Linked DNA regions of Homo sapiens. The protein of the gene in region 1 interacts with the protein of each later gene in a biochemical or structural test. Each region holds a gene or a part of one and is shown on either strand. Other genes may lie near its edges. The genes, in order: SYNJ2 and SYNJ2BP.

Region 1 (16,505 bases):
CAGGGTCTCACTGTCTCCCAGGCTGGAGTGCAGTGATACAATCTCAGCTCACTACAACCTCCACCTCCCAGGCTCAAGCGATCCTCCCACCTCAGCCTCCCAAGTAGCTGGGACTACAGGGTTGCACCAGCATGCCCAGATAATTTTTTGCATTTTTTGTAGAGACGGGGTCTCACTATGTTGTCCAAGCTGGTCTCAAACTCCTGGGCTCAAGTGACCCTCCTACCTGGGCCTTCCAAAGTGCTGGAATTACAGGTGTGAGCCACTGCACCTGGCCAGTAACTGTTCTGAGTAACTTTTAAAGCCCACTAATGTTACGTGGCTGGCAGGTCGGGTAGTTCATATTTCAGTGTCAGCTACATTGATGCTGTTCCATTCATAGCCAGGCATGCCTCTAGCTGTCAATCACTGAGCCCCGAGTTGGAGGACAGCTCTAACCAGCAGGTGCAGGAGCTTAGCCACGCATTGGGCCCATTGAGCTGGGGCTGAGAGCAGAGAACAGGGCTGAAAGTGGATTAAGGTACCTCTCAGGGAGGGTACTTTGCCAGGAGAGGTGCGAAGACCTCCAGCCCCTTTGACCGTACGCTGGTCCCCACACTGACCAATAACTTGCCTATACCGAACCATCAGGAGCTTTTAAACTTATGGATTTTTGAGCCCTACCAGAGAGATCTGGATTTGGTAGGAGTGGGGTGGGACCCTGGAAGCCTGGCGTTTCACCAAGCTTTCCAGGTGGTTTGGACGCACAGCTAGGTTTGGGGACTTCTGCCCAAGACTGAAGCAGCAGCCTTCGCCGGAGCATCGCGGTGGTTCTGCACGTTGCTCCTGCCAGGGGCTTCTGCCCGGGAGTTGAAGTGGCTGGAGGGATGTGCTCTTCCCATAAGAAGGACCTTTCTCTCGGGGGTGGCCGTCATGCAGGCAGCCTCTGGAGCCAGTGCAGGTGTGAGCACAGATAGTCCTTTGCATGAAGAAACTAATAGCGCAACACGGGACACGTGGGTGGCTTTGCTACCTGGTGGGCATTGAGAGGGTCTTCCCTTGATGCTGTGGGGTGTTCAGCCATTCCCATTTGTAGGAGAAATCCTGCCTTTCCCCAGTTCCAGTCTCCAGGACACATGGGGTGGAGCTGCTGGATACAGGGAGTGGGGTGTCCGAGTCAAAGTGAAATGGAGAGGCCCATGCTTTGGGGGAGCCCTAGGGCTGCTGATTTGATCTGTAAGGAAGCAGGAGCTGTGCCTCCTGAAAACCCCTCAGCCTCTTGGAAGGTGTGTGCAGGGCAGGTCAAGATGGCAGACCCTTGGGAGTGGCCAGCCATGGGCCCACAGGGTTTGGGATTTGATGAGTAAGCAGGACCCCTGGTCCTAGGCACTGGCCACTGCATGCCAGGCTGCTCTGCTGCCAGAGCAGGGAGAACACCCTCAGCTTCCTCAGCCGGTGTGTTCTAGAGTGAGGAATTGAAAACATCTGCCTGTGGTTGGTTGACTCTTCAGGGGTTGTGGTTTGCAACTGTCTCCTCCACTCTGCCCAAGTCTTGTTATTTCACAAGAAAACACACTTTGAAATAGCTCAGTGTCTCTCAAGTCTGAGAAATACCCATTATCCATGGTTCACTGAATGTTCCAAGCAGGCACTGGGTGCCCTCCCCGCCCCCGCCCCTCGCCGGCAGACAGAGGTGCCCGTTTCTGGACAGAGCCTTCAGCTGTCCTACAGCAGGTCCCCCTGCCACAGTCGGCCTCCTGTGCTCAGATCCGTGTCTGACACGCTCACGTGTGGAACAGACCATTGTACTCATGCCCCGCCATGTCCTCCAGATGACGCGGACCTGGTGGAGCTCAAGCGGGAGCTGGAAGCCGTCGGGGAGTTCCGCCACCGTTCTCCGAGCAGGTCTCTGTCGGTCCCCAACCGGCCTCGGCCACCTCAACCCCCGCAGAGACCCCCCCCTCCAAGTAAGACTCTGCTTGCTTTCAGCTCCCTGGATGCCTGCCAGGAATAACCGCGCGTTCCCTGCTACTGAAAACACGGCTCCGAATCCACTTCTCCCCGGCCTTCCGGTCCCCACAGGGCTTCCTCCTCCTTGGGCTCCGTTTTGTTGTAAATCCAGGACACGTTTGACGTCAGGGCTGGTTGTGTTTCTCATGGCAAATGAAACAGCTCCTTTCCAAAGCTGCTGTTCACCCTGGAGCTGTGCTATTGCTTCAAACTGCTCTCCCTTGGCAGCATTAGAGGATGCAGAATGGGGGCCGCAGCCATGGGAGGGACGTGAGCTTCGCAGTCAGAAGTCTCTCCTCAGCTGCTGCGCAGTCCTCCCTCTACTTATGAGGAATCTGGTAAACCCAGGTCCCCGCCTGGAGGTGACCTGGTCACCCCTCTGCGCTCCGAGGCCTCCTGTTCCCCGGGCTCAGAACAAGTTCCCCCTTATCCTGGGTCTAGGAGCATTTTCTTCTGGTTGTTCGAACAATGCTTTGCCCGTCCAGCCCTCCCTGATAACCTGAAAGCAAAGCTGTGATGTGCTTTTGATCCACTTGCATTTTCCCACCACTGTTTACTTCTCCCTCCCCAAAAATGTGATGATCAGACTTAGATCTTCCTAAGCCATTACTTCAGAATTGGGCTCATTGTGGCTGACGTCACGGTAGTAACCAATGGCAAGCCACAAGCCCAGATATAAAAATAACCCAAAAATAAAATGCATAAGTCATGTATTATTGTGGAAATTTTAGAGATAACTACAAAGAAGAACAAAATTTTAAAATTCACTTGATGACCTACGGGTCGTAGTTGTTGAAAAAAGTCTTCTTTTTCCAGTTTCATGTATCTGCAGCAACATACTTCTTTTTTTTTTTTTTTTTTTTTAACAAAATTAATACCCATTTTCTCTGGTCGGTTGTCTTTTATTTAATGGGTTATATTTTCTGTGTCATTGAATGTTCTAAAACATGATTTGTTAATGGCTGCAAGTATATTTTAACAGTTTATTCCCCTGCTTTGGAATTTTTTTTTTTTTTTTTTTTTTTTTTTTTTTTTTTTTTTTTTTTGAGATGGGCTCATTCTGTCCCCCGGGCTGGAGTGCAGTGGTGCGATCTCACAGCTCACTGAAGCCTTGACCTCCCCGGCTCAAGCAATCCTCCTACCTCAGCCTGCCAAGTAGCTAGGACTGCAGGCGCATACCATCAGGCTTGGCTATTTTTATTCATTTATTTATTTATTTTGTAGAGACAGTTTCACCATGTTGCCCAGGCTGGGGTTTTTGAAATATTTTTTCCCCACAAAATATTTTAAAAATCTGGTCCTAGCAATAGTATTTGGAACCATTTCAAAATCAATTGGTTTTTATATCAGATCTGAATCCCCCAAGATGTTAAAGTTTGCATTCTAGTAATGCTTCTCCAGATCATCTACATCAATAGGCACACACTGGTAGAATCAAGTGAGAAACTCCATAGAGAGTCAAGGAAGGCCTGGCTCTGTGGGTGCCCTAAGTGCCGAGTGAGTATTCGGACCTCACCGTGTCTGTGGTCTGCTGGGACATCCGCCTCGTCTAGTCGGGCTCCTGGCAGCTGGCTGGGAAGTTGTGCCTTCACTGAGATTGAGACTCTGCCCTCGTTGGTTTTTACAGCCGGTTTAATGGTGAAAAAGTCGGCTTCAGATGCGTCCATCTCCTCCGGCACCCATGGACAGTATTCAATTTTGCAGACGGCAAGACTTCTACCAGGAGCACCTCAGCAACCTGTGAGTTCTTCTGCATACATTTCAATCCCAAGGGTTTTGCCCCCGGGATAGTGTGGGATCTCTCTTCTCAGTGAATATATAGATTTATGTGTCTTTAACCCTCTACCTGCTCACCATCTCATCTCCAAACCCCATAACCCTTCCTCGCAGGTTCTCCATAGGGCTTTTAAATGGTTGTATGGAGTGTTCTAGAAAAAATCACTTTTGATGAAAAATCCCAAATATCCCTGGTTTCCATACTCATCCATTTCTCTCTCTTCCCATTCTTGCCTCTGACCTTGGTGTATGGGCAGAGCATTGCTTGGTAGAAGGGAAAATGGGAGAAATTCAGGTCGTTATCCTGGGAAAATGATGATCATTCTGGAGTGAAGTTGGTTGAGAGAAGAGGCTAAAAAGAGATGTAAATAATGAAGTTGGGGAACACACTAGGAAGACTAACAGCCATAGAGGATTGTGGAGGTGCCTGGTTCCAGAGGGTACCATGAGCTGCTGGGGAAGAGAGCAGGTGAAGGCAGGGAAGTAGAGGGGAGAGAGGGGAAGCTGGGTGCTAGGGGGAAACTGCTATGACCGGGATGCCTCTGGGGTGCTGGGCCTGGTTAAGTGCTTGTGCGGCCCCAGCAGGTGGAGGGGTGACTGGAGGCCAGTGTTTTACAGTAGTGAAAATAGGTCATAAAGGCAACCCACATGCTGGATGAAGAAGTAGAAAAAGCACTTTTAAGGAAGGTATTTTAACAACTCAGTGGGACCATGGAAAGAGTGGCCTCTTATTTTGCTTTCTGGCTTTCACCTGGTTATTGAAAAAAAGATAGAAGATGGTCTGTCCATATGCAAAAATCTGTAATCACCCGGCTTTGAAGACCAGGGTCATCAGGTCTAAGTAGTATGGCACTCTTGGAAAGAGAGTGCTCCAGGAAAGAGAGGATTGCAGGGTGTGGTGGAGGCTGGAGTTTGTATGGTCAGCATCGTCTGGTGGAGCCCTGCACAGACCCACGGGTAGCAGATACGTCCCACGAGGCTGTCCTCCTGCCTCTGCTGATACTCTGCTCTTCCTCATTCTGTCCTCAAGCCCAAGGCTCGGACTGGAATAAGTAAACCTTATAATGTCAAGCAGATCAAAACCACCAATGCCCAGGAGGCAGAAGCAGCAATCCGGTGTCTCCTGGAAGCCAGAGGAGGTAGGTGCTTTCCTGGGGGCAGGGGAAAAACCAATTCTCCTTTTCTTTTTATCTCCCTGCTAAAAGTGGTCTAGAAACGAAAATAACTCTTTTTATTCTTCTGGAGGCAATATTAAATGAAAACATCCTTTAGCAACATTTTATATAAATCTATACTAAGATTGATTGTCCATTTAAAATTGTATTTTCAAAATTCTGTGTGTATATAAAAATCATCCCAGGGCTATTAAGCGGCGTCTAAAGGAGAGACCGAAAAAAACCAAAATGAGTTTTTAAAAAAGGTGAATGCTGCCGGCATGAAGTCATTCTGCCAGCTTTATAAAACAGAGACAGTTATAGTGTTTGTCCTAATTTCAGGCACAAAATCTACCTTTTAAATCACTGGCAAGTGGAAATAAAGTTTTTAGTGTCAGGCAGGGACCTCTTTCCCACCACATTATTTTTTGTTGCTGTTACTTAAACCATGTTAGTTACCTTGGGCTCTCCCCCACTTCATTCATAATCACTGGTAATTTACACTTTTAGTTTTGGCCTTGGCTTTGTTCCAGAATCTCCTAGAGAGGAGAGTGTGCCCTTTTCTTCGTTTTTTTTTTTGTTTTTTTTTTTTTTTTTTTTGAGACTGAGTTTCACTCTGTCAGCTGGACTGGAGTGCAGTGGCTCAATCCCAGGTCACTGCAACCTCCGCCTCCCAGGTTCGAGCAAATATCCTGCCTCAGCCACCTGAGTAGCTGGGACTACAGGCGCGCAGCCCCATGATGAGCCAATTTTTGTATTTTCAGTAGAAATGTGATTTCACCTTGTTGGCCAGGCTGGTCTTGAACTCCCAACCTCAGGTGATTCATCCACCTTGGCCTCCTAAAGTGCTGGGATTACAGGTGTGAGCCACCACACCTGGCCGAGTGTGCCCTTTAAAAAGGTGTAAGCAATCACCATTGCTTAATTTGCTTTTAGTCAGCATGTTTAACTTCTTTGGAATTCTCAAATAATATTTAAGGGGGCATGAGTTAAAAGGTCGAGAACTACTGTTGTAGAATGATACTGCTACAAATGCTTTCTTTTTTTTTATTTTAGAAAAATAACTAAAACTAGGCCGGGCGCGGTGGCTCACGCCTGTAATCCCAGCACTTTGGGAGGCCGAGGCGGGTGGATCACGAGGACAGGAAATCGAGACCATCCTGGCTAACACGGTGAAACCCCGTCTCTACTAAAAATTCAAAAAATTAGCCGGGCGTGATGGTGGGTGACTGTAGTCCCAGCTACTCAGGAGGCTGAGGCAGGAGAATGGCTGAGCCCGGGAGGTGGAGCTCGCAGTGAGCCAAGATTGCACCACTGCACTCCAGCCTGGGTGACAGAGCAAGACTCCGTCTCAAAAAAAGAAAAAAGAAAGAAAGAAAAATAACTAAAACTATGGATATAACAACCCAAGTGTCCATCAGCTGATAAATGGATAAACAAAATGTGGTCCATCAATACAATGGAATATTGTTCAGCCATTAAAAAAAAAAAGAATGGGGCTGGGTGCTGGGTGCAGTGGCTCACGCCTGTAATCCCAGCGCTTTGGGAGGCCGAGGCAGGCGGATCACGAGGTTAGGAGATCGAGACCATCCTGGCTAACACAGTGAAACTCCATCTCTACTAAAAATACAAAAAAATTAGCCGGGCGTGGTGGCACGTGCCTGTTAGTCCCAGTTACTCGGGAGGCTGAGGCAGAAGAATCATTTGAACTGGGGAGGCAGAGGTTGCAGTGAGCCAAGATAACGCCACTGCACTCCAGCCTGGGTGACAGAGCTAGACTCTGTCTCATAAAAAAAAAAAAAAAAAAGAATGAAGTGCTGATACATACTACTTCATGGGTGGACCTTGAAGACATTATACTATGTGAAAGAAAGAAAAAAAGGCCACATAGTGTACCATCCCCTTTTTATGAAATGGCCACAGCAGGCAAATTCATGGGGTCAGAAAGTTCTTCTTGCTTTCCAGGGACTGGAAGGAGGCCTGGGTGGGGAGTGGCTGCTGTGGGGCTTCTTTTTTGTGTGATGAAAATGTTCTGGAGTTAGATCGTATGATGGTTGCACAACTTTGTGGATACACTAAAAACCAATGAATGGTACACTTAGAAAGGGTGAATTTCACGGTATGTGAATTATGTCACAATAAAGCTGTTAAAAAAAAAAAAACTCTAGAGATGTAGATGTTAGTAGAGGTGTGAAATCTACCTACAGTCCCGGCTTAACACTTTCTTGGTCATGGCCCCATTGAGATTTTGATGTCTTTGGATCATCTACCCTGAGAAATGTAAGTACACATGAGACTTTGCATATGATCTCAGGGTCTCACTGGTCCCCATCCAAACTATCCACAGACCCCAGATCACCACCCCTGCTAGGAAGGTGAGCATGAAAACCTGGGACTGCTGGGTGCGGTGGCTCACGCCTGTAATCCCAGCACTTTGAGAGGCTGGGGTGGGAGGACTGCTTGAATCCAGGAGTTCGAGACAAGTCTGGGCAACACAATGAGACCCTCTCTCTACAAAAATTTTAAAATTAGCTGGGCGTGGTGGTTCACACCAGTAGTCCCAGCTACTTGGGAGGCTGAGGTAAGAAGACTGCATGAGCCCAGGAGTTCCAGCAACATAGTGAGACCTCATCTCTACTAAAAATTTTAAAAATTGGCTGGGCGTGGCAGTGCTCACCCGTAATCCCAGCTACTCAGGAGGCTGAAATGGGAGAATTGCTCGAGCCTGGGAGGTTGAGACTGCAGTGAGCCGTGATCATGCCGCTGCACTCCGGCCTGGGTGGCAGAGCGAGAGCCCATCTTAAAAAAGAAAAAAGAAAAAAAGCTGGGACTGAATCTAGCTGATTACTCCTGAAATACACTGAATTAGTAAATGACACTTAGGATGTAGACTGTCTAAGGACGAAATCATGCAGTGAATTGCCTTGTCCTTTACACTTCAGCCATGTGGTTTTATGTTTCAGGTGCCTCCGAAGAAGCCCTAAGTGCCGTGGCCCCAAGGGACCTTGAAGCATCCTCTGAACCAGAGCCCACACCGGGGGCAGCCAAACCAGAGACCCCACAGGCGCCCCCACTCCTTCCCCGTCGGCCCCCACCCAGAGTTCCTGCCATCAAGAAGCCAACCTTGAGAAGGACAGGAAAGGTAAAAGCCTGGTAACATAAAACCTCTTACTCCTAAGTTGCTCACATGTCTCGATAGATAAGAATTGTGGCCTGTAATCCCAGCACATTGGGAAGCCGAGGCAAGCGGATTACGAGGTCAGGAGTTCAAGACCAGCCTGACCAACATGGTGTGAAACCCCGTCTCTACTAAAAATAGAAAAATTAGCCGGGCGTGGTGGCGCACGCCTGTAATCCCAGCTACTCAGGAGGCTGAGGCAGGAGAATCACTTGAACCCAGGAGGCAGAGGTTGCAGTGAGCCGAAATCGTGCCACTGCATTCCAGCCTGAGCAGCAGAGTGAGACTCCACCTCAAAAAAAAAAAAAACAAAAAAAAAAAAACAGATTTGCGTCTCACAGATAAAAATCTAGTTCCCTATGGACATCCTCACGTTCATGAGTCCCAGACACAGGTGTGTCTTTGGGGAAAGTTTTGACAACTGCTTCTTCCCTCATATCCTACTGTGTCTTGGCTCTGGCTGAGAAGAACGAGGAGTCCACTGTCTGGCACATTGTCAGTGTGACAAGAACAGCTTGGAGGTATTATGCTTCCTAAGTGTTTTGAGTCCCCAAAGGGAACCATAGTGGGATGCTTTTCCCCACATGTTCTGGTACCGCCCATTTGCGTGTGGTCTGTGTTGTGTGCACATGGTTTCAAGGCATTAGGAAAACAGTAACCGATTCCCAGATTCGCCATGTTCACATGCTCTCGTGCGGCCTCAGCCTACGAGAGGTTCCACAGCTTTTCTTGCCACTTTTCTTGCAGATTGTTTTTTGCTCTCGCTCTCAAGCTTCTCAGCCTTGCTTACTGCTTCAAAGACATGAGTTTGTAAGGACAGTAGCAGCCCAAAGACTGGCATCTGTAGACACATCTGGATCTTCCGTTTGATCTCAGTGTTCTAGTAACGGACCCTCGGTAATCCCTTCCTGGTCATCACAGCACGATGCTGCTTCCCCCCTAGAGAGTGTGAGGGGGGCTTCGGCTTCACTCTTGACAGCGCTTGCTTTGTATTTCCTGGGTTGCTCTTCTGTCCCACATTGGCTCATTGCCATCTGTCCCTTGTCCATGCTTCCTTACAAAGTGGACCTTTTTCCTCCGCCTCTTCCCTGTTCAGATGCTCCTCGACTTAAAATGGGGTTACATCCCAATAAACCCATCGTAAGTTGAAAAATAGCGTGTCAAAACTGCATCTCATACACCTAACCTAGCAAACGTCATGGTCTCGCTGACCTTGAACACACTCAGAACACATACATTAGCCTACGGCTGGGCAAAAAAAAAAAAAAAAAAAAAAAACACCCATCCAACACAGCCTATTTTATAATAATAAAAATAAAAGATCAAACTTCAAAATTCAAAGTATGCTTTCTACGGAACATTAGCGCTTGTGCACTAGGGTGAAGTGGAAAATCCTCAGTGGAACCATTGTAAGTCGGGGACCACCTGCTTTGTCTTTTCTTGTAAAAGCCAGGAGCAGAAATAGATTCATTTTCCCAACCTGCTGCACAGGAGTTAAAGTTAAAAGGCTGTTGGAAAAGAGACTTTCTTTTTTCTTAGTTTGTTTTCTAAAGAACCAAAGAAACACTGAAACGCCAATGTTTAACTAGTCTACTGATCACCTTTTCTGAACAAAAGCTTCATTTTGCCTGTGCAGTTGTTTTCTTTGTGATAGATTTGAACCAGAACCAAGGCAGTGTCAAGGTTTCCATTCTTTACCAATATTTAAGTATAAAAGATTCAAGGAGCTGGGCGCGGTGGCTCACGCGTGTAATCCCAGCACTTTGGGAGGCTGAGGCGGGTGGATCACCTGAGGTCAGGAGTTCAAGACCAGCCTGACCAACATGGTGAAACCCCGTCTCTACTACAAAATACAAAAATTAGCCAGGCATGGTGGCAGGCGCCTGCAATCCCAGCTACTCGGGAGGCTGAAGCAGGAGAATCGCTTGAACCTGGGAGGCGGAGGTTACAGTGAGCTGAGATTGCGCCATTGCACTCCAGCCTGGGGGACAGGGCGAGACTCCTTCTCAAAAAAAAAAAAAAAATTCAAGGAGAAAGTATATCCATTAGTCCTTCAGTTAGCTTATGTTGTAACACAAGTTACTTCACCCTAGCATGATACAGACCATGAATCAGCCCAGGTTGCAACTTCAAAGAGTGTTTTCAGAGAGGTTTGCTTTCAATAAAGGAAGAGCATCACCCCATTTCCTAAAGGACAAAGAAAAGTTTGTCTGATTATTTACTGTGGCCCTGGTTTTAAATTTTCCACTCGTTTTCATTGGACCTGCTGGTGTGACCTGATAAATGTGTGTTTCTCCTGTGCTTTTTCTTTTTCTTACCTGGTCACATTTCTGGCACCCCACACATTCTCAAATCTCGAATTTGCTAGAATGTCAGCTTGGTCTCATCTCTGTTCTCTGCTGGCCACTCTGTTCTCTGATCCTCAGCTGCCTAGTTATTGGCTTCTTATTTACACTCTTTGTCCCACCTTTTCTCAGCCCCTGTCACCGGAAGAACAGTTTGAGCAACAGACTGTCCATTTTACAATCGGGCCCCCGGAGACAAGCGTTGAGGCCCCTCCTGTCGTGACAGCCCCTCGAGTCCCTCCTGTTCCCAAACCAAGAACATTTCAGCCTGGGAAAGCTGCAGAGAGGCCAAGCCACAGGAAGCCAGCATCAGACGAAGCCCCTCCTGGGGCAGGAGCCTCTGTGCCACCACCTCTGGAGGCGCCGCCTCTTGTGCCCAAGGTACCCCCGAGGAGGAAGAAGTCAGCCCCCGCAGCCTTCCACCTGCAGGTCCTGCAGAGCAACAGCCAGCTTCTCCAGGGCCTCACTTACAATAGCAGTGACAGCCCCTCTGGGCACCCACCTGCCGCGGGCACCGTCTTCCCACAAGGGGACTTTCTCAGCACTTCATCTGCTACAAGCCCCGACAGCGATGGCACCAAAGCGATGAAGCCAGAGGCAGCCCCACTTCTTGGTGATTATCAGGACCCCTTCTGGAACCTTCTTCACCACCCTAAACTGTTGAATAACACTTGGCTTTCTAAGAGCTCAGACCCTTTGGACTCAGGAACCAGGAGCCCCAAAAGAGATCCCATAGACCCAGTGTCAGCTGGCGCTTCAGCTGCCAAGGCAGAGCTGCCACCAGATCATGAACACAAAACCTTAGGTCACTGGGTGACAATCAGTGACCAAGAAAAGAGGACAGCACTGCAGGTGTTTGACCCACTGGCAAAAACATGACTGAGCAGCTTTGAAGGCTGCAGTCCTATAGAATGCATACCTTCCTCCCTCTAGACATCCCTCCACCAGAAGAGACATCTATTTAAAGGCACACTGGCCAAAACGTTTGTGCATCTGTCACTCTCGTGTAGTTTACAAAAATCGTGTCTCTTATTCAGTAAGATGGTTACTCAGCCACCAAAATATATTTCACTCAAGGCTTGTACATCTGAAGTTTGCTCTTCAAGGAATGGGAACCTTCCTGTTAAATTCGGTGTATGGATTTTAAGAAAGGAATCTAGCCAATGAGGTCCAAGAAGTTCTCACCCATTGAATTTTTAAATGGCTGTTCAGTTCATGTTGTACGTGATGGAGATTTGTCTTTTGTTTTATTTGCATTTTACAGATTTGGTATAACATTTTGGGGAGCCACCTGAAGGTTGATGTATAAAGTAAGGATTAGAGAAAGAGGTCGTTGTGACCATTAGTAGCTGTCCTGGCCCACTTAAACAAGGTTACAAAAAATCAGAGTCGGAAGCAGCCAAATAGGTCAACCTAATGACTAGACTGTACATTCCCATGAGCCTTCATGTTTAAGTGTGTACATGTGCGTTAACCTTGATGATGCGTGAATCCCGAGGGAGCCGGTGGCATACACCGTTAGCTTAACCTTAGCTTAAACTAGCTGAAGGCTCCTGTGCCATGTCTTAGACATTGCATGCCCTATCAATTACTATAATCCTGAGCCATGGTGTGCTACTGAAACCAATTTTTATCCACCATCTAGTCCTTATTAAATGAAACCTCACGGATCCTTTGTTCCGCTTATATTCCATGCATACCACATAAAAGCACACAGTGCGAAAACTCTTGCTGATACGCGATATTGATTCTCATTGTTAGAATATGGAGAGTGTTTCAGCCTCGTCTGTCCGGCTGGAGCTTCGGGATGGAAAGTGCTATGTGTCCCTGCATATAAGAATCACCAGGCCAGTGTTTCTGGGTTTGCTTGTCTATATGTTTGTCTATATTTTTTGCCTATACATTTTTCCCACGTTTCCAACAGCACTTCTCACCTATTCAATAACTGAAAAAGACATTACCATAGTGCTTTACATTTTTAAAGTAATGTTACAAGGTCTGGAATCCATTTGGAGCAGATACCGTGTTTTCGCTATTTAATAAGAAGTTCAGTAGTGAAATCTTACTGTACCGCCTGTTGTATCTGGGAGCCTCGTACAGAGGCTCGCACAGCAGTGATCAAGTGTCATCCCTTACGTGACTGGGGGATGTCTGTCCTAAAAGCTGACTGCTAGGATAGTAAGGATCATCTTGCCTGGGCTATGCCACTGTCTTGTTACCAATTAGACATCTGGAATTTCATAATTAGTTTTCATTGTCACTGTCAAGATATATTGCAGATTACTTAAATATGGCCATCAAAACAAAAGTTACAACACGTATCTCTTTTCATCTGAAAACTAATACCTGGAAAAGGATAAAAAAAAAAAGGAATCCGTGACCCACAGAGCTAGACAGATAAGATGCATAGTTGACCAGTCATAAAAGGCGGTGTTTAGGTGATCAGGATGCCGTTGGTGGCATTTACGTGCTTTATATGATTTTTACCTCTGTAACAAACACAAGAAATAAACAGAATGGTCCTTAACAGAGTTTGGGGGAGAGAGCAAGATGGGTTCCTTGGAGAAGCTGATTTGCCAAGATGCACATCGCTATTAACAGCCAGAGTCATAAATGAAATGAAATTGAAGAATTCATTCAAATGCTCTTTTCCCTATAACCTCTTTTCTCACCAAAAAGGAGATAAATTTGAAAACAGATAAATGTAACAACCAGTCAAAGAAGCAGGGGAAAAGTAAGCTCCTCCAAAGTTGCTTGCAGTGCTGGAAATAGATCTCATTTTTAGGTTTTCTCTTCGTTCCAGATACCAAATAAATGGGACAGAGAATAAAATTTTTGTTAAAATATGTGCTCATCTCCTAAGTAGCTCTTCAGAGTCTGACCGTAAGTAAAAACACACAGAATTGTGTTGACTGGGGGAGGTGAATCACAAAAAAGTTACGAGGAGTTTAAGAGTTAAATATTATTTGATCGTGGCTGTCAAATTTAGTGAACAACATAGATTGGATTTGGAGTTGGTAGTAGGTATGGTTCTCATACCAGAATTCTCTTAAAAAAAAAAAAAAGGACAATTGGAATTGCCTTATTTATTTTTAAAATCAATGCTTACTAGTTGGTAGGATTCCCAGGTCAGCAGCAGGGTTGATTAAATAATCTTGACAATGAGCAGCTGCCATCTTGGGGGATTTCATTCTGTGGTTTTTTAAATGTTTCGTCTTTGATGCTACCATCCAGGGCTTCTTATTGTGACCTTGTAGCCTATTTTGTTCCTGCTGTTCTCTAACATGGTGCAGTTCACGCAGACTGGTTTAGGTACTTCACAACTCACCATTGTCTCTCTGACCCCAAGCCTAGTCCCTTTTACATCACCATCTTCTCAGACTTCTTGCCTATTCTTAAAATATGTTTTGGTTAATGATTGAATTAGGACATCAGCTTAAGCAATTCCTGTAACGGTTTAACGTTGTTGAAGTTCAAGGCACATAATAAAATTCTCCCTGATGTGTGTGTAAGTATAAACAAAGTAATGTATCAAAGCGTTCACTTTATAATGAAGTCATTTCATTGGGAAGGAAAGCTGCAAAGATTATTGGGGGACTAGTGATTAATAAAATCCTGTAATATTTTTGAAGTGAAAATTTGTACTGAAATTGTACATGATACCTATTAAATGTTTTTGTCTTTTTTTAAATTGGGTTTATTTCTTTTCAGATATGAAGAGAACCTTAGAATATCTTTGGCTACCTTCTGTTCTGGATCAAATGTAATTACTGGTTATTTAGTAATTCCTCTTGAGTTTCGGGTTTTGGTTTTTTGTTTTTTTTGTTTTTGTTTTTGTTTTTTTTGGAGACAGTCTCACTCTGTCGCCCAGGGTGGAGTGCAGTGGTGCGATCTTGCTCACTGCAACCTGCAGTGAGCAACCCGGGTTCAAGCAATTCTCCTGCCTCAGTCTCCTGAATAGCTGGGCTTACAGGCATGTCCCACCATGCCTGGCTAATTTTTTTGTATTTTTAGTAGAGACGGGGTTTCACCATATTGGCCAAGCTGGTCTCAAACTCCTGACCTTGTGATCCGCCTGCCTAGGCCTCTCAAAGTGCTGAGATTACAGGTGTGAGCCACTGCGCCCAACCGGTTCGTTTTTTTAACTATTAAATTAAGTTCAAAAACCAGAAAAGTAATCATCTGGTTAAGAATTTATGACTTGAATGCTGCTAGCAGGGAATACTGCCATAACATATAATAACTTTATGCTACTTAGAGATGCTAGAATTCATTTTCTGTACGATTTTATAGCAAACTTATAAAAACTGAACTGCTAGCTTGAGTCCATTACAGCATAGAAGCAGGAGACGGAAGTAAACACTTCAAGTTCTGTCTAGGTTTGCTCTAAGCTAATTAATACAATATAGATCATAAATGTTCTCTGATGATTTTCAGGAATAAGAATAAATCTCTAATAAATATGGCTAGTCCTTCCTGACCAGTAAGGAGGCATATTGAATTTACTAAATCTGACAGCCGGTTGCAGAAACTTCCTTTTCAAGGGACTGGGGGAGATAGGTTTAAAACGCACTCTCATCCAAGGCAAATTGTTTGCATTTATCTCAATGAGGTAATAAGAGTACAAATGAGGCCAGGCACGGTGGCTCACGCCTGTAATCTCAACATTTTGGGAGGCCAAGGCGGGTGGATCACCTGAGGCCGGGTGTTTGAGACCAGCCTGGCCAACATGGTGAAACCCTGTCTCTACTAAAAATATGAAAATTAGCTGGGAGAGGTGGCACACACCTGTAATCCTCAGGAGGCTGAGGCAGGAGAATCCCTTTAAGCCCAGGAGGCAGAGGTTGCAGCGAGCCGAGATTGCACCACTGCACTCCAGCCAGAGTGTGACTCTGTCTCAAATAAATAAATAAATGAGTATAAATGAGAGAGTAATTGTGAACAGACAGGGAAGATTTGGGAGAAGAGTATTAAGAATTTTGGGCCAGGCACGGTGGCTCATGCCTGTAATCCCAGCACTTTGGGAGGCCGAGGCAGGCGGATCACGAGGTCAGGAGATCGAGACCATCCTAGCTAACACGGTGAAACCCCGTCTCTACTAAAAATACAAAAAATTAGCCGGGCATGGTGGTGGGCGCCTGTAGTCCCAGCTACTCGGGAGGCTGAGGCAGGAGAATGGCGTGAACCCAGGAGGCGGAGCTTGCAGTGAGCTGAGATCGCGCGACTGCACTCCATCCTGGGCGACAGAGTGAGACTCCGTCTCAAAAAGGAATTTTGAACTATTTTTTTAATTAATTATATTTTCAGAGCTGTTTTATGTTCACGGCAAAATTGCCCAAAAAGTAGAGTTTCCATATCCTCCCTACCCCAACACGTGCACAGCCTCCTCCACTATTGACTTCCCCCCACCAGACTGGTACATTTGTTTCAATCAATTGACTACATTGGTACATCATCCTCCCAAGTCCATAGTTTAGGGTTCACTTTTGGTGTTGCACATTCTATGGGCTTGGACAAGTGTATAATGACATGGATCCACCATTGCATTATCATGCAGAGGAGTTTACCGTAAAAATCCTCTGGGCCCCACCTATTCATCCCTCCTTCCTCTCAATCCCTGGCAACCACTTACCTTTTACTGTCTCCATGGTTTTTCCCTTTCCTGAATGTCATAGAGTTGGAATCACACAGTATGTAGTCTTTTCATGAGTGGATAGCTCTTTTTTTTCAGTGCTGAATATAATCCATTGTCTGGACGTACCAGTTTATCCATTCTCCTACTGAAAGACACCTTAGTTGCCTTCAAGTTTTGGCAATTATGAATAAAGCTGCTATCAACATCTGTGTGCATGTTTTTGTGTGGACATAAGTTTTCAATTCATTTGGGTAAATAGGAAGGAGTGTAATTGCTGGATCATATGGTAAGAGTATGTCTGTAAGAAACTGCCAAACTGTCTTCCAAAGTGGCAGTACCATTTTGCATTCCCCCCAGCAGTGAATGAGAGTTCCTGTTGCTCCACATCCTCACCAGCATCCGGTGCTGACAGCATTTTGGGATTTTGG
Region 2 (15,597 bases), on another chromosome or scaffold:
GGTCCAGGCTACAGTGAGCCGTGATCATGCCACTGCACTGCAGCCTGGGTGACACAGCTAGACCCTGTTTCAAAAATAAATAAATAAATCTCACGTGGCATCCAGGTTAGTTAAGCGTATCACATCTCCTACTTTCCCTAAGATCCTAGAAGCCAAAGGCGCTGCTCTAAAACTCTAGCGTTTTCCTACATCTTCACTACATAAAACATCAGCCTACTGGATACTACTCCATCAAAACCCGGCACCTAAGTAGTAGCTAATAATGGGTTAAATCGTATACATATATTCAAAATAATGCTAGAGTCGATAATCTTACACTTTTCAGATAAGGCATCTATCCAATTTAAGGCACTCTATGTCTTTAGTATCTTGTTTGTTCAATCACTCAAATAAGCATTTATTGAGAACCTTGAAATGGCCCTGAAGGAGTAACTGTGAACAGTAGGAATTACAGGTATGCCGGCAGATTGTCAGGGGACAAAATCTGTGACACTGAGGAATGTAAGCACCTATCAAATCATACTACATAGGTGGTAAATTTTACCAGCTATGCATAGCGCCCTTCTTAAGCATCACTACTGTATACTTCAGTTTTTCCATCTGTTAAATCGGAATGAGTGATATTTGTCATCAGTTTACGATTCTCACAAAAAGGGAACACAAAATTTCTTACCAGTATGGAATCTGTTGCCTTCCCAGAAATATGACTCAAATTCCATGTGTTTCCATTGTTAATAAACAGTTAAAATGCTGACTCAGCTATCTTAACTGTAAGAAGTTACAAAAAATGTATATTCAGGAAATGGGGCATCTCCACCATCTATGCCAGTCCCTGAGGACTGGTATGTACTTGATATCCAGGCAGGTTATATTATCCTCTAGTATCTGCTCTACCAGCATTTAACTCATGCAAGTACATGGGAGCGTTGTTATAAAACAAAAACAAAAACACCAGTCTTCTTGAGAGCTTTAGTCCTGAAGTTAGGTTTTAGAATTATGGCCAGAACTGGCCAGCCACAGTGGCTCATACCTGTAATCCCAGCACTTTGGGAGGCCGAGGCGGGCAGATCACCTGAGGTCAGGAGTTTGAGACCAGCCTGGCCAACATGGTGAAACCCTGTCTCTACTAAAACTACAAAAATTAGCCGGGCATGAAGGCGCATGACTGTAATCCCAGCTACTCGGGAGGCTGAGGCAGGAGAATCACTTGAACTCGGGAGGTGGAGGCTGCAATGAGCCGAGATGGTGCCACTGCACTCCAGCCTGGGCAACAGAGCAGAATTATGGCCAGAATTCATGGCTATGGTAATCGAAAGATTAGTTACTTCATGAATCTTTGTTTACTTTGATAATGCCATTGAATCTACTAATTGTTTTTTTTTTTTGAGACAGGTTCTGCTATATTGTTCAGGCTGGTCTTGAACTCCTGGGCTCAAACAATCCTCCTGCCTTGGCCTCCTAAGTAGCTGGGACTACAGGTGTGTGCTACCATGCTTGGCTTACCATCTAATTTGATTCACTCAAAAACCTTATGATAGGGGCAGAACATGATGCCAGACTCATCTTATAGGTTAACAGACTAAGGCTCAGAAAAGTTAAGAGGCAAACACAAGGTCTCACTTTGGAAGGGGTACAAATATCCCAAACAGAACTAAATTTCCTGTAGAATTGGACAATACTGACTATCTCCTTGAAATTCTCTCCTCCTGTGGCTTTTATGGAAGTTTCACTGCCATGGCTCCTCTCCAATGGTGAGACTTCTTTTTGTTGTCTTCAGACTTACAAACCTTAAACTGGAGTCCTTAGTCCCATTTTTTCCCTCTGTCTCAGTTACTCTCAAACTTTAGTGTGCACCAGAATCCCTGGGAGAGCATTAAAACAGACTGCTGGGCCCCATCACCAGAGTTTCAGATTTAGTAGATCAGGGATGGGGCCTGAAAATCTGCCCTTCTAACAAGCTTCTGGGTGATGCTGCTGGTCTGAGGACCACACTCTGACAACCACTGCTCCATCCTCTTTCCCTAGGTAAACTCCACTTTCACATTGGCTTCAAATTTTATCACAGCATGGAAGACTTCTGGTACACTTCCAGGAGCCTGAACGATTTTCTAACACCTCAAGGTCAACATGCCACCAAGGTTTATTTTAATCCTTTTCTCCATTCAATCTAATTTCTATGGCTAGAACTAGAGTAGCTAAGAGTTGGTCTAGTTCAGTCCAACTTGAAACCAGTTAAAATTGTCCTTGATATTGTTCAGCCAGAAAATCAACTGTTTCTTCTTTAATGCACTTTCTCTTATGATAGTGATCATGAACATTCCAAGTTTAGAATTATTGCTGTATTTGCCTTATTACTTTTTATGGAGTATAAGATATGGGGTAAACAGGACCATGCCTAATACATTTCTGTTTTCCATGACTTCCTTCATAGTACAAAACCACAATGCATAATTTTCTGGAAAAACAAATGAAATGACAGGAGCAGCCAGGAGTGGTAGCTCACATCTGTAATCCCAGAACTTTGAGAGGCCAAGGCGGGAGGATCACTTGAACCCAGGAGTTTGAGACCAGCCTGAGCATCAGAGCAAGACCCTATCTTAAAAAAATAATAATAATAAATAAAACAAACCAACAAACAAAAACAAGGAAATGGCAGGATCTTCCCATATCATGCTATACAGTGAAGGATGAAGAATACATGGCTCACTGCAGCCTCAACTTCCCAGGCTCAAGTGATCCTCCCACCTCAGCCTCCCGAGTAGCTGGGACAACAGGTCCATGTCAGCACACCTGGCGTTTTTTGTTTTTTTTTTTTCATTTTTTGTAGAGACGAGGTCTCACTATGTTGCCCAGGCTGGTCTCAAATTCCTGGGCGCAAGCAGTCCTCCCACCTTGGCCTCCCAAAGTGCTGGGATTTCAGGCATGAGCCACCATGCCCGGCCAGTAATTCTCAAACCAAACAAAAATCTGCTTTGTAACACTTTGGAGAGAATCAAAGGTAACTATTCCATACAAAAGTGCTAGAGGTCTCTTCTATACAGACAGACAAAAGAAACCGAAAGGAATTCAAAGACAACGGCAATGTCCTAAAGTACACTATTACTTGGATTACAAATTTCATCAGGTAGAGCAAAGCAGGAACTCTAGCCTGCTGGTTGTCACAGGGTTAAGCCCTATCTGAAAGCTTTCTGTATAAATATTGTTAATTAACTAGGGTTTCCTTTTTGGGTAGGTGGATGGGTGCTTTTGTAATATAAGTCAGTGGTGAAACAGGATTTTATCTATTGAACTTTATGTTAAAAAAAACTTTACAGAAACACTTATATTTAGAAATATGAAGACAAATGTTTGAATTGAGAGCAAGTGAAGTGCACTTTTATCTCAAGATAAACTTCCTGGAAAGGAAACCATTAAAAAATGTCCTGTCTGTATGTGTGTTTTGTGTTGTTTTAAATGCTTGAATAACATCTATTGTCTACCACTGGTTTTAAAAAAAAAAAAGATTAGTCAAATACCATTGTACACACAAAGTTTCCTATAAAACAAAACACAATGCACATCCAATAGAATTGGAACTTGATGCCTCAAAAATGAATCTATTTCCTAAAATAATCACTTCCAAATCAAACAACATTTTGAATAACCCCCAAACTGAGGAGGATATCAAAATAGAACTTATGTTACATGGCAGTTAATAAAAAGGAAAAAAACTTCATATGAAGTCCTATGATTGCACATAACTGAAAACAAATATCCAACTTATGAAAAGGAAAAGTACAACAAAAAAAAGCCCAAAACCAAAAACACAAACAAAGGAAAGCATAACGAGGGAATTAACCAAAATAAAAGCTAAACTAAAAAAATAGGAAACAAGCAAAAATACAAGAATTGATTAGTAAAACCATCCCAGGTGATATCAGCAGAACAAATAGTCAATTGACAGAATCTTTTAAAAAATTATTAATATGCTTTAAGCCACTTAAGTTTTGCAGTGGTTTGTTACATAATTGGTAACTGACACACCTTTGCCTATCAAGAAAGAACATGGCCATTCTATACATACTGTAGACTACCAATTTGATTTCAGGCCTGAACTGCTTAACATGGGTGACGGAGCAATGATGACCAATGTAAACTGCCTTTTCTCTTCATATCAAAGTCAGCTGTATGCAAACTAACTTAGAATAAAGGTCAACAATATTCAGTTCTGACAAGTCCTTTTTCATGCTGTGGCACAAACCCACTTCTGCCTTCTATGTATCTTATAAGGCTTTGGGGGATGAAGGGGATACAAGTAAGATGGTAAATGTTGGCAACTGCTTGCAAACATTGCGAATAAATACACAATGATACTGCTACTGCTATTATAGAACATTTAACCTAGTGCAGTCAATTTCCTGTTATCCATAATGGAAGGATATGATAGCATGGTTGAATCAAATTGAGTATAGTAAACCTTAATTTTCTAGAATAGTGGAAGGGCAGTGGACTCATTGGCTTGAAGTAAATTCCCAGGTCTGGAACTGACTAGTTATGTATCTTGAGCAAGTTATTAACTTCTTTAAGCATCAAGTTACCTCCCCTATAAAAATGGAATATTGACACTGCCTTGCACAGATATGAGAATTTGGCATTAAGTTATACAAAAGGGCAGCCTAATGCAGTGCCTGGTACCATGGGAAGTAGAGACAGTAAGGTGTTATAGTTATGAATGCAGGTTTTGAAGCCAGATTGCCTGGGTTTAAATCACAGCTTTGGCACTTAGTAGCTGTATAACTTGGGCAAGTTACTTAACCTCTCTATGCCTTTTATCTATAAAATGAAGATAACAACAGCAGTTATCTTAAGAGTTGTTTTGAGGCTTAAATAAATATTATACATGCAAAGGCCTTAGAACAAAAGCTGGAATATTGATAAGAGCTCCATAATTGTTAACAGGATATCAATGTCCTGTTCCTTATCTCCTATGTCAAAGCCTCAAACTGATCATTTAGATTTCTTCCTCTTTCCACAATTCTGTCAGAGGTGTTACCCTAAGAATATCTAGTACATAGTAAGCACTTATCAGATATTTGCTGAATGAAGGAAAAAACCCTCATCTGGAAGAAAAAAAAATGAGATATTTAATCAACGGTCTTCAAAATAAGGTGAAAAAAGATTGTAAAGATTCAATGACAAAGTTTTATTAAATACCAATACTGGCTAGGCACAATTAGACACATTATTATCTCATTTGCTGTATCTGGTATCAAACAACAAAGCCTGAAAGATTACCATAGATTTTGATGGCCTCATTAACATAATTAATCCGTAGTGACATTCCCTGGATAATAAATACAGTTTTATGTCCGTGTGTCTTCTGTGTCTTCCAAGTTGCTACAGGGCTCTATTTGATCTGAGAAACTGACTGCTGTTTACATCCAGGTATGCAATGTGACATTAGAATTGAAGCAGAAAGGAAGCAAAACAAAACAGGGTTCATGAGGAAAATAATCTTCTAAGAACTAACATGGCCTGGAGGTAAAATGCAAATATATCCGGTAATAAGAAGCCCAGATTACTGCAGATAAAAGATTAAAATAGGATTCAATTATTCATCTCCATTTGCAAATCTACAAACTAGGAGGAAGGACTAACCCTTTTCCTGGGATTAGTAACTAAATTTAATGATTACAGCAAATATAAAGTTCTTTTGTAAATTATTGTTGGTTAAGGATTGACTTGCATTGACAACACACTTTAGCTCTCGCCCCTTTCATTCTCCCCCTGCAAGAACAAAGGCAAAATGAACAGTGAGGAAAACCTGGAAACAGGACCGAGTGTTTGCTATCACTTGATTCCTTTGAAGGAGCAATGCTTTCTCATAATATAGGTTTTATAGTATCATCAAGTACATCAGTTAAGCAAATCAAGTGCTTTGTGTTCTGTATATAAATTACATAATACAAGAGTCTGTGGCAGTTAAGAATCTGGTTCTGCACTTTGGGAGGCCGAGATGGGTGGATCACGAGGTCAGGAATTCAAGACCAGCCTGGCCAAGATGCTGAAACCCCGTGTCTACTAAAAATACAAAAATTAGCCAGGCGTTGTGGCACACACCTGTAATCCCAACTACTGGGGAGGCTGAGGCAGGAGAATCGCTTGAACCCGGGCGGCAGAGATTGCAGTGAGCTGAGATCGTGCCACTGCACTCCAGCCTAGGCGACAGAGCAAGACTCCGTCTCAAAAAAAAAAAAAAAAAAAAAAAAAAGAAAAGAAAAGAATCTGGTTCTGATCAGAATCCTTAAAATACTGTCTTCTTTTTTATCACAATTGCCCTTTTGGATGTGAGTGCTGGTCTCAAAAAGATTTGCAGTTAAAAGAGGAACAGCAAAAAAGACTTACACCAAAATAGCAACCAACTCTAAAACTATTACAGGTGAGAGGTAGACAGCTTCATAACTCAATCTTCTACTACCAGGTGATGTTAAAAAAATACTTTAACATCAAAATCACCTACAAATATTCCTCCACTTTCATATGCTGAGCAATTTCAGCTTAGAGTGACTAAGTGTTATTTATCTCTCTATCTTCGGCACCTAGCACATAGTAGGCAGTCATTAGTTATTTGCTGAATGAAGGAAAAAAACCTTCATCTGACCAACGATAAATTTCACTAAAATTGACTATAATAAAATCTGTATGGGCTCCACATGAAAACTACATGAACTTCACTTCCCCACATACCTGACAGCCTATACACTTCCTTATGTTTCATTTCTTTAAATATACTTTAAAAATTGCTTATTTACACAATAAAAACAATGTCCACCATAAAAAAAAAAGTCTCTAGAACTATTGGAATTAGTCTCAGAATAACTCATCTGATTGGATTTGATATGAGATCATTCTCAGATTGTTCTGTGGAATCTCCCAATTCCAATAATGATGCTTGCAATATCCTTTAGCTGTCTATCAGTTCTGGTCTTTATTCAGGCCCAAAGAGAGAAGAAAGAAGTAGACTAAGATAAAATGGGTAGTCTGTGTATTCATGTAGTGAATATATTCAAGACATAAATATGAGACAGAAAGGTCACTTCTGCAACAAACTAAGTCTGATCAGAGTTAAGTTAGCTTCCCTCTCTGAGCCTTTATTTTTCTCATCTCTAAGACAGATTCATCCTAGAAGCTCTCTGGTCCTTTTTAGCTTCAATGTTCTATGATTGGTTCTCATTTAATTGATGCACCAACTGAAACACTCACTAATCATACATTTTGCTGGAGGTTGATCAATCCTTAGCAAATCAGGAAGAAATGAATGTTCCACTTACTTCGTGCAGAAGCTCAGGAAGCTGGGCTCTAAAGGCCCAAGTTTTTGTTGTTGTTGTTGTTGTTGTTGTTTTGCCTGAAGCAATGTATGTAATTTAATAATTTAAATAGTGTTTAATTAAATAGTGTCTTGTTTAAATGCTATATAACATTTTCAACTGCGGCTGCACACCAGAATCACTCAATGAACTTTATTTTACTGCTGCTTGAGTCCCACCCTCAGAGGTTCCTTTTAATTGATCTGTGTGCAGCCTGGGCATGGGGACGTTTATAAGCTCTCCAGATGATTCTAACCTGAGCAAAGGGAATGATGACTGGCATAGAGCAATGAGTCTCAAACTTTAGCATGAATCAGTCACCTGGAAGGATTACAAAAACACAGATTGTGAGATGCCACGCTCAGAGTTTTTGATTCACTAGGTCTGGAACTTCTTTTTTCTCTTCTGGGAACTTGCTTTTTGTTTTTTGTTTGTTTGTTTTTTTGTTTTTGAGACAAGGTCTCACTCCGTTGCTCAGGCTAGAATGAAGTGGAGCAATCACGGCTCACTGCACCTCAGTCTCCTGGGCTCAAGCAATCCTCCCGTGTAGCTGGGCCTACAGGAATGCACCACTAATTTGTTTGACTTTTAGTAAAGACAGGGTTTCACCACATTGTGCAGGCTGGTCTCAAAACTCCTGAGCTCAAGTGACCCACCTGCCTAGGCCTCCTAGAGTGCTGGGATTACAGGCATGAGCCACCATGCCCAGCCTATGAACTTGCTTTTCTAACAAGTTCCCCAGTAACGCTGATGCTTTTGTCAGGACCTTGCTTTGAGAACCACTTCCAGTGAGAGAATATCATTGATGCTGGCATCTGAAGTCCTGAGTTTAAATCCTGATTCTATTATTACCACCTACATAATCCTAGTCAAGTAATTTTTTCTCTCATTTTTAGTCTCTTTGTGACAATACTTAGATCCCAGAGTTATGAGACATGAAATAATGTACCAATCAGAGTTTGGTACAGTCCCTGGCATAGAACACAATAACAAATATTAACTTCCTTTTTCCATTATACATGGCTAGATGGAACAATTAAGTTAAATCGATAACACATAAGTTGAAACTTCACAGGAAAACAAAGTACAGCTAGTTGAAGCAAACAATATCTTATAATTATACATGTAATACAGAATGATAGAGAAATGTTTTAAGTACTTAAAAATACCTTCGTTCAATTTTCAAAACTTTGAACGTAATAATTTAGGTAGTAGGAACATTAGATGCAATCTATAGAAGAAATATTAGACTCAATCTATGAAGAACATGAATTTTTTTACAACCTATAATGGATCCTGATACCTCATCTATAATTTTAGTTTTCTATAGAATCAATAATATAATTAGTGTACCTGCTTAAAACTGTATTACATTGATCTTCAATGCTACTTAATTTCTGAGAAAACCTAAGTTATAAGAGTACATCAGAATCTCTATTATCAACCAAAGCAAAACTTCTACCAACGACAGAATGGATACTTTTTAAACAAATTTACATATACCAACAAGCAAAAAACTAGAGCTTTCATTCCTGCTTGACATTTTTTTCACTTTGTGTGTCTCAAGGCTCTCTCAGGAATCAGTGTCCAAACCATGAGGTGAATCCTGGGAGGTAAGCAAGCTTGCTGTAGAAGCCGCTGTACATGCCTTCAGGAACAGAAAGGGTACCAGAGGCTGTGCCCTCCTAGTGTGGCTGGTTGGAGTGACAACTAGAATGTTGTCCGTGTTTTTCTGTGGAACCTACAATGAGTCCAGTTGTCTAAGTGAGTCTCAAAGGTATTGAATAGTTGATGTCAAAAGGCACTTTATGTCAGGACTGTTTAAAGCAAGTTTCTCCCTATACCAGTAGTGACCCAGAGGCAAGGTCTTACCGGACCTCTTATTTTCAAAAGCCTTCCCTTTCCAATTGAGCCTGATGCCATTATGTGACATCTTTTTTTCCCTGAATTTCTAAAAGAAAATGTGATGATTACCTGCATATCTTCTTTGTTGCTGCATCGTGTTTTGCATGGTACCCCTTTAATATTGTTTTCAATACTTAGCCTGCTGATATACTTTTAACTTCTCACCTGTTTATGAATTCTCTTAACTAGGCTGTGAGGCCCTTAAGGGTCTTCAACTTGTCCCTTTCCTCCACGTAACTTTCTCAAACGCCCCAGTTCTCAGTAACTTTTCTCTTTTGCTGTCTGTAATATAAACATGACCCCTACTTACACTGTCCTACCTATGTGGCCAATAAGAGTGTTGTCTTCGCAGTTGGAACCCAAAAGCCCTATGGGATGGAGGATATGCACTGTACTTCTTTGTAAAAGTGTCTTGACAAAGCTGATGTCCAATCAACATTTAATTACCAGACTGTCCAAGCTAGAAATGAAATACAGTTGATTGCCTGAGTCCTGATAATCTTGCTAACAAAATTATAAAAGGCCTATAGTATGGCCAATATATTTGGCTAATGGAAATGATTTTCTTAAAGCCAGAAAATTCAGCTACCCATAGTGCTTAAAACCAGCCTTAAAAGAACATGAACAGGATGGTTCCCACCTTATCGAGATCACTGGCATTCCATAGTATCCATTCATTCATATCCTCCTCCTAGGCCGCATGAAACACCTACCACATTTCCCTACCTCCTAAAGCAAACAAAACTCTTTTCCTCCCTCTTGCTGCAAAAAGGTTTATTAAAAGCCGTATGTAGTGTATAAAGCCTTTCAAAAATACTAGCAATCCATGCCTTTCTTTTTTTGAGATGGAGTCTTGCTCTGTAGCCCAGGCTGGAGTGCAGTGGCGTGATCTTGGCTCACTGCAACCTCCGTCTCCCAGGTCCTGGTTCAAACAGTTCTCCTGCCTCAGCCTCCTGAGTAGCTGGAATTACAGGAACGCGCCACCATGTCCAGGTAATTTTTGTATTTTCAGTAGACATGGGGTTTCACCATGTTGGCCAGGCTGGTCTTGAACTCCTGACCTTGTGATCTGCCTGCCTCGGCCTCCCAAAGTGCTGAGATGACAGGTGTGAGCCGCTGCACCCGGCCTCATTTTAACTAAATCTGAAGCCAGAGTTGATTTGATGCCCATCCTGCCAGGGAGGCAGTTCCTTCCCTCAGGTTTGTTAGTAGAAACCAAAAAGTAGCCTGAGAGGGTTCAGGTGCCACCTTGGAGGCACTACCTTATCTTTTGTCCTTTTAGAGTTTTCTTGCTGGGGTGTTTGGCTCCAGCACTATAGCCCTTACCACAATCATTCCACCTGGTTCTTCAATAGGACTCTGAGGTATCAAAAAAGTCACTAGGGCAGCCCAGAGATTGGTACGATTTACCTTTACACCTCAAAGTTTTTTAGATGTGAGCAGCGCTGGATTATGGCAATTTACCTTATAATAACTCACCATAGTTGGCTGTTATAAGAATAAATATTGTTCTTCTAAGATTTTTAATTAGTTGCTTCAGTTATTACATTTTTTTCTATTTTTTTTTTAAATAGAGATGAGGTTTTGCTATGTTGCCCAGGCTGGTCTCCTGGACTCAAGCAATCTCCCACTTCAGGCTACCAAAGTGCTGGGATTTACAGGCATGAGCCACCTCTCCCAGTCTCAGTTATTATTTTAATAAATGAGACTGAACGTCCTCTTATAAGGCTCACTCCCTTGTTCCTACTACATTTGCTCTGTTTAAGTATCTCTTTAAATTCTTCAGTTAAGATCATCCCTTTTATCAGAAACCTAGACACCACAAAGTAGCTTTCTCACCTTTAATTCTCCATAGGGATCACTATTATACTATAATATTTGCATACGTATGTGTATATATGTATTTGCTTTTTTAAAAAAGTAAAAATGCTCTTCTCACTCTTTGTCGATATAGGCACCCAGGTACGTAGTTAGAAATTAAATAAAGGCCACAATAATTTCCCAAGGAAGATCATTAAAAAGAAAAATCCTTTCTTCCTCTAATATCACATAGCTGGCCTTTATGGCATGCCAGCTAAGAAAAAAGGTATTGCCTATGGTGACAGGAAGACTCAATCTTTCTCTCTTTGGGTTGTAGCTGAATTTCTATCAAAAGTCCTAGTAAAATATATAACTCCTCATTTGTTCTAAGCCAAGTCTTTTCTTCAGTTTTCCTTCAAACAATACCTTTACTTTCCCATTAGAATATGAAGAATTGGAGACTGTGAACAGCAAGGTTTGGGGTGGGTATCAGTCACTTCAAATCTGGCTATGCAGAGAGAGGGAAAGACATGGCAGAATAGCAGGGGTGGAGGGTGAGTGAAATGTATCTTCATTGGGAGTATTGAAAGAGAGCAAGTTTTTCAAAGTTGTTGCCGGTATCTCATGAAAGCCCAGGCTGCTACCATGGTGAGGGCAAACACTGGCACCAGCACCATAAATATGGGAATACCACTTGGGTCCCCTTCACCTCGATGTCCTATAGGTCCATTCTGCACCTGTAACTGGAAGGGAAAGAAAAATGTTAACTCTAGTGACTAATGTGTGTTTGCAACTGAAACGCCCAGGTTGATACATCACCTGGGTTTGTAGACTCTAGACCACCCAAAACTGTAACCCCCAGCAATACCTAGCAGAAGGAGTCCTCTCTTTGTCCTGAGCTGATGCATCAGTGTCACAGGATCTTTGGAAAGAAAATAGGTCTAATGGGGAGGCATTTAACCTTGCTGACCTAAAGGGACCCGTGAGGGCAAGTCAGGTAATTTCTGTTTCTGTACTGCCTCTACCTTGCTATTTGTGTATCGTATCAGGAAAATGAAGACATGAGATAAAACCTATGATCTTATAGGGAACTTGGATATTACTTGGTGAGGAAGAAGGGGGATCTTTCTGGAAATGTTTACTTAGATAATCAGTCATCAAAATGTAGTAAGAGCAGATGTGGGCAATGTCAACATAGGTGCAATACCAACATACGTCCAATGCCATTACTTGAAAAATGCTTTCCAGATCCCAGAAGGCACCCAACTCCCTCCAAAGATGGGGTTTTGCCCTTCATCTGCTCATTTCTAATACTAGAGAGAGATGAAGGTGAATCTATATGGAACAGATGTAAAAAAGCAAAAAGAAATTATATCCTAGTGCTTATAATTTTCTATTGGCTAAGTGTTTCCTTTTGAGGCTGGATGGTCTTCATTTTAGTGATGGTTTTCAGGGTAGCTCTTCTTAATATCAACTTTTAGTGGCTAACTTGCAATAATTATGGCATCATCGTATTTCAGTTAAACTGCCTCATTACAACTCATAAAACTGACACTTCAATCTGAAAGGCAAGACTGCATGAAATACCATTATACCCTCTATTCCACCTCTATGTTTTTCATTCATTTGCTGATGAGCTGTCCTGAAAGGACATGCTCAATAAGAAGGCATGGTTTTTAGGGCTAGGCCAATTGCCTGAACATAAGGGTCTTTTTTATTAGGAATTATTTATGGATGTTTCCTTAAAAGTGAACACTGGAAATAACTTCTCACATACCTTCCAAAAGAATTGTAATCATATTGAAGTGTGTCCCTATATTTACTTGTTTTTATCTACTGCACAAATGCTCCCATGCTTTAGAAAGAGAAGAGCCAAGGCAGAAGCAACTGATGACCAATATTATCTCTTATTAACCTGTTTTCTAATCCATTACACCCAGATTCTGCTTGCAACTGGTTGTTTTCTCAGGTATCTTTCACGTTCTGCCTTCTCTACTTTTTTAGGAACTCCTCTAAATGTTCTTAAGCTTCTAAATCCTTAGCCACTGAGTGAGGAAGAGTGCACCTATTTAAGAAGTAGCAAATTGATTTAATTTAAAGGCACATGGAACCTGTTTTGTGAATATGCTCAGAAATTCTCAATGCTATAGGAGGAATTATATCTACCCAGGCTTCCCTTTACATCATCATCCAAATTATAAAACACTTGGAAATAAGAAACAGATGCAGGGATAGGTGCTGCCTTGACTGAATTCTGAATTCCATTTCCTTTTTCCTGGAGTTCTCCTATGAACACTAAAGATTTGGTTAAGAGGGTCACCAAGTTGATAAATGAAGGGTTCATGGCAGTGACAGGGAAAAGCATATAGTGGGTACCAGAAAACCCACCATCTTTGTAGTGTTTTATCCAATGGTTTTATAAATAAGTTTTCAGCGGTAGACATATGGTTCCTTCCCTACCAAAAAGTAAAATTGGCTACGTTTTTTTACCATCTTTTTAATTAATTAATTTATTTATTTTCCATTGGTCCATGTCACTCTTAAAATTTTTTATTTATTTTTATTATTATTTTTTTAAGAGATGAGGTCTCTCTATGTTGCCCAGGCTGGTCTTGAACTCCCGGGCTCAAGCAATCATACCACCTTGGCCTCCCAAAGTGCTAAGAGTACAGATGTGAGTCACCACACCTGGCTTTTCTTTAATCATCTGTTTTAATTTGGTTGTCAAGCTTTATCTTTAAGGCATATTATCTTGAAGCAAGGACCTTGGTTATAAGCCATACTGTTGTGAATTTCTCTTTTTTTTCTCTTTTTTTCTTTTTTTTTTTTTTGAGACAGGGTCTCACTCTCTTGCCCAGGCTGGAGTATAGTGGTATGATCTTGGCTCACTGCAACCTCTACCTCCTGGGCTCAAGCAATCCTCCCACCTTAGCATCCCAAGTAGCTGAGACTACAGGTGTGCACCACCGTGCCTGAATTTTTTGTATTTTTAGTAGAGATGAGGTTTTGCTATGTTGGCCAGGCTGGTCTCGAACTCCTGGCCTGAAGTGATCCGCCCACCTTGGCCTCCCAAAGTGTTGGGATTACAGGTGTGAGCCACCGTGCCTGGCCTGAATGTCCTTCAATGATAAGCAGAAGTACCAATGGACCCCTCCCTTTGCCTGAGAAACTCTTCAGGGGAGTGAGGGTAAAACAAAAAGCAACACTGAAGATTACACACATTGGGCTTATTCAGAAGTACAGTGCAAAAGCCTGGTGCCAGGTTTCTGGCTCAAAGTGATACCTACCCTGTGCTGCACTCTCAGAGACACAGCATAGCCTGCATTACGAAAGAGGTCTACAGCATCCTGGTGCAGCAGGTTCTTTAGGTCTTGGCCATTTACCTGTCAAAACACCAAAGAGTAGTAAGAAAGGAAGAAGGCTATTAGAAGTCAACAATTTATTTTCAAATGGCCAAACTTTAAATAACAAACTCCTTCAGAGCAAATTGCAAGGACTAGGAGTATGGGCAAAGTTACTTAGAGCTCAGAACTTAGAACTTTTTTCATTTTCAAAACTATGTTTTCCTAGAACTGAAGTTCCACAGGCCATCTGAAGAGAACCTATGTAAAATAAAAAGTGGTCTCTCCTTCCTCTTAGCTTCTATGCCTGTCTCGTTTTGACACTTGGGAATCTGTTACCGTATTAGCATTTCTTCCATGAGTGTTAACCTGCTTCCTTAAAGATAGCATGGTCTTCCAGGTTACCACCCTAACCTTTATATTCCTAAGCCCTGGCATTGCCAGCTGCAACTGTAGAAATATAACTCTATGAAACTCTCCACCAATTTATTTTGATGTCATATAAATCTATACTAGCCCATTCTATTGGGCTTTTCATAGTGAACAACTTCCTGTGATTCCACGGATACTCCTATCCATTATATCCAAATTAGTAAATTAGTCATTTTTTAATCAAAACTTAGTAAAAACCATATTCCTGTGATGATATAAATCCTTAAAAAAATTTCAGTGTAGGTCACTCCTACCACTTAGAGGTGAGAGATGTGAAGGAATACTTGTATTAATACTTTTTGCAGTTAGGAGTGACATCGGCCACAAGTAATAATCTATCTATCCTATGCTGTATTCAGTGACACAGCACAGCCCACTTAGTGCAAGATTACATATCTTTTATACTTGTCAATGTCATCGTTAACAGTAGCAGCAATAAGAACATCTGATATATTTCTTTTGATAGGTTCTGTACTTTACATACATTATCTCTTTTAATTCTCATGATAACCCTATGAGGTAGACATTATTTTTATCTCGTTTCCACAGATAAAGAAACTTGAAGCTCAGTGAGATTTGTGCTGGAGCTAGGGCTAGGATTTGTAAATAATGAAAGAAAGATCAAAGTGTCCTTGCATTTCACTGTTCCTTCTGCACTGTTATTCTTCCATCTTGACTCACCAACTATCCTCTGCTCAGCTAATGCTCAAGTCACTCCCTTACTCAACTCTCTCATTTTCCTTGTCGCAATCTTCCTTCTCCAAGGCACTCAT

Evidence for each region.
Region 2: the proteins of SYNJ2 (region 1) and SYNJ2BP form a complex in vitro, tested with the Homo sapiens proteins (one study listed by BioGRID).

The regions. Positions count from the first base shown.
Region 1 is NC_000006.12:158,085,044-158,101,548, forward strand, and holds the end of SYNJ2 (synaptojanin-2), read left to right. Parts: intron 1-1,811; coding exon 1,812-1,946; intron 1,947-3,616; coding exon 3,617-3,729; intron 3,730-4,795; coding exon 4,796-4,904; intron 4,905-7,882; coding exon 7,883-8,061; intron 8,062-8,844; coding exon of another isoform or gene 8,845-8,967; exon of another isoform or gene 8,968-8,994; intron 8,995-10,574; coding exon 10,575-11,321; 3' UTR 11,322-14,133; downstream 14,134-16,505. UniProt on the Homo sapiens protein: Inositol 5-phosphatase which may be involved in distinct membrane trafficking and signal transduction pathways. May mediate the inhibitory effect of Rac1 on endocytosis.
Region 2 is NC_000014.9:70,361,338-70,376,934, forward strand, and holds the end of SYNJ2BP (synaptojanin-2-binding protein), read right to left. Parts: intron 14,435-15,597; coding exon 14,339-14,434; intron 11,795-14,338; coding exon 11,654-11,794; 3' UTR 5,162-11,653; downstream 1-5,161. Other genes in the region: SYNJ2BP-COX16 protein, read right to left, coding at 11,696-11,794, 14,339-14,434. UniProt on the Homo sapiens protein: Regulates endocytosis of activin type 2 receptor kinases through the Ral/RALBP1-dependent pathway and may be involved in suppression of activin-induced signal transduction.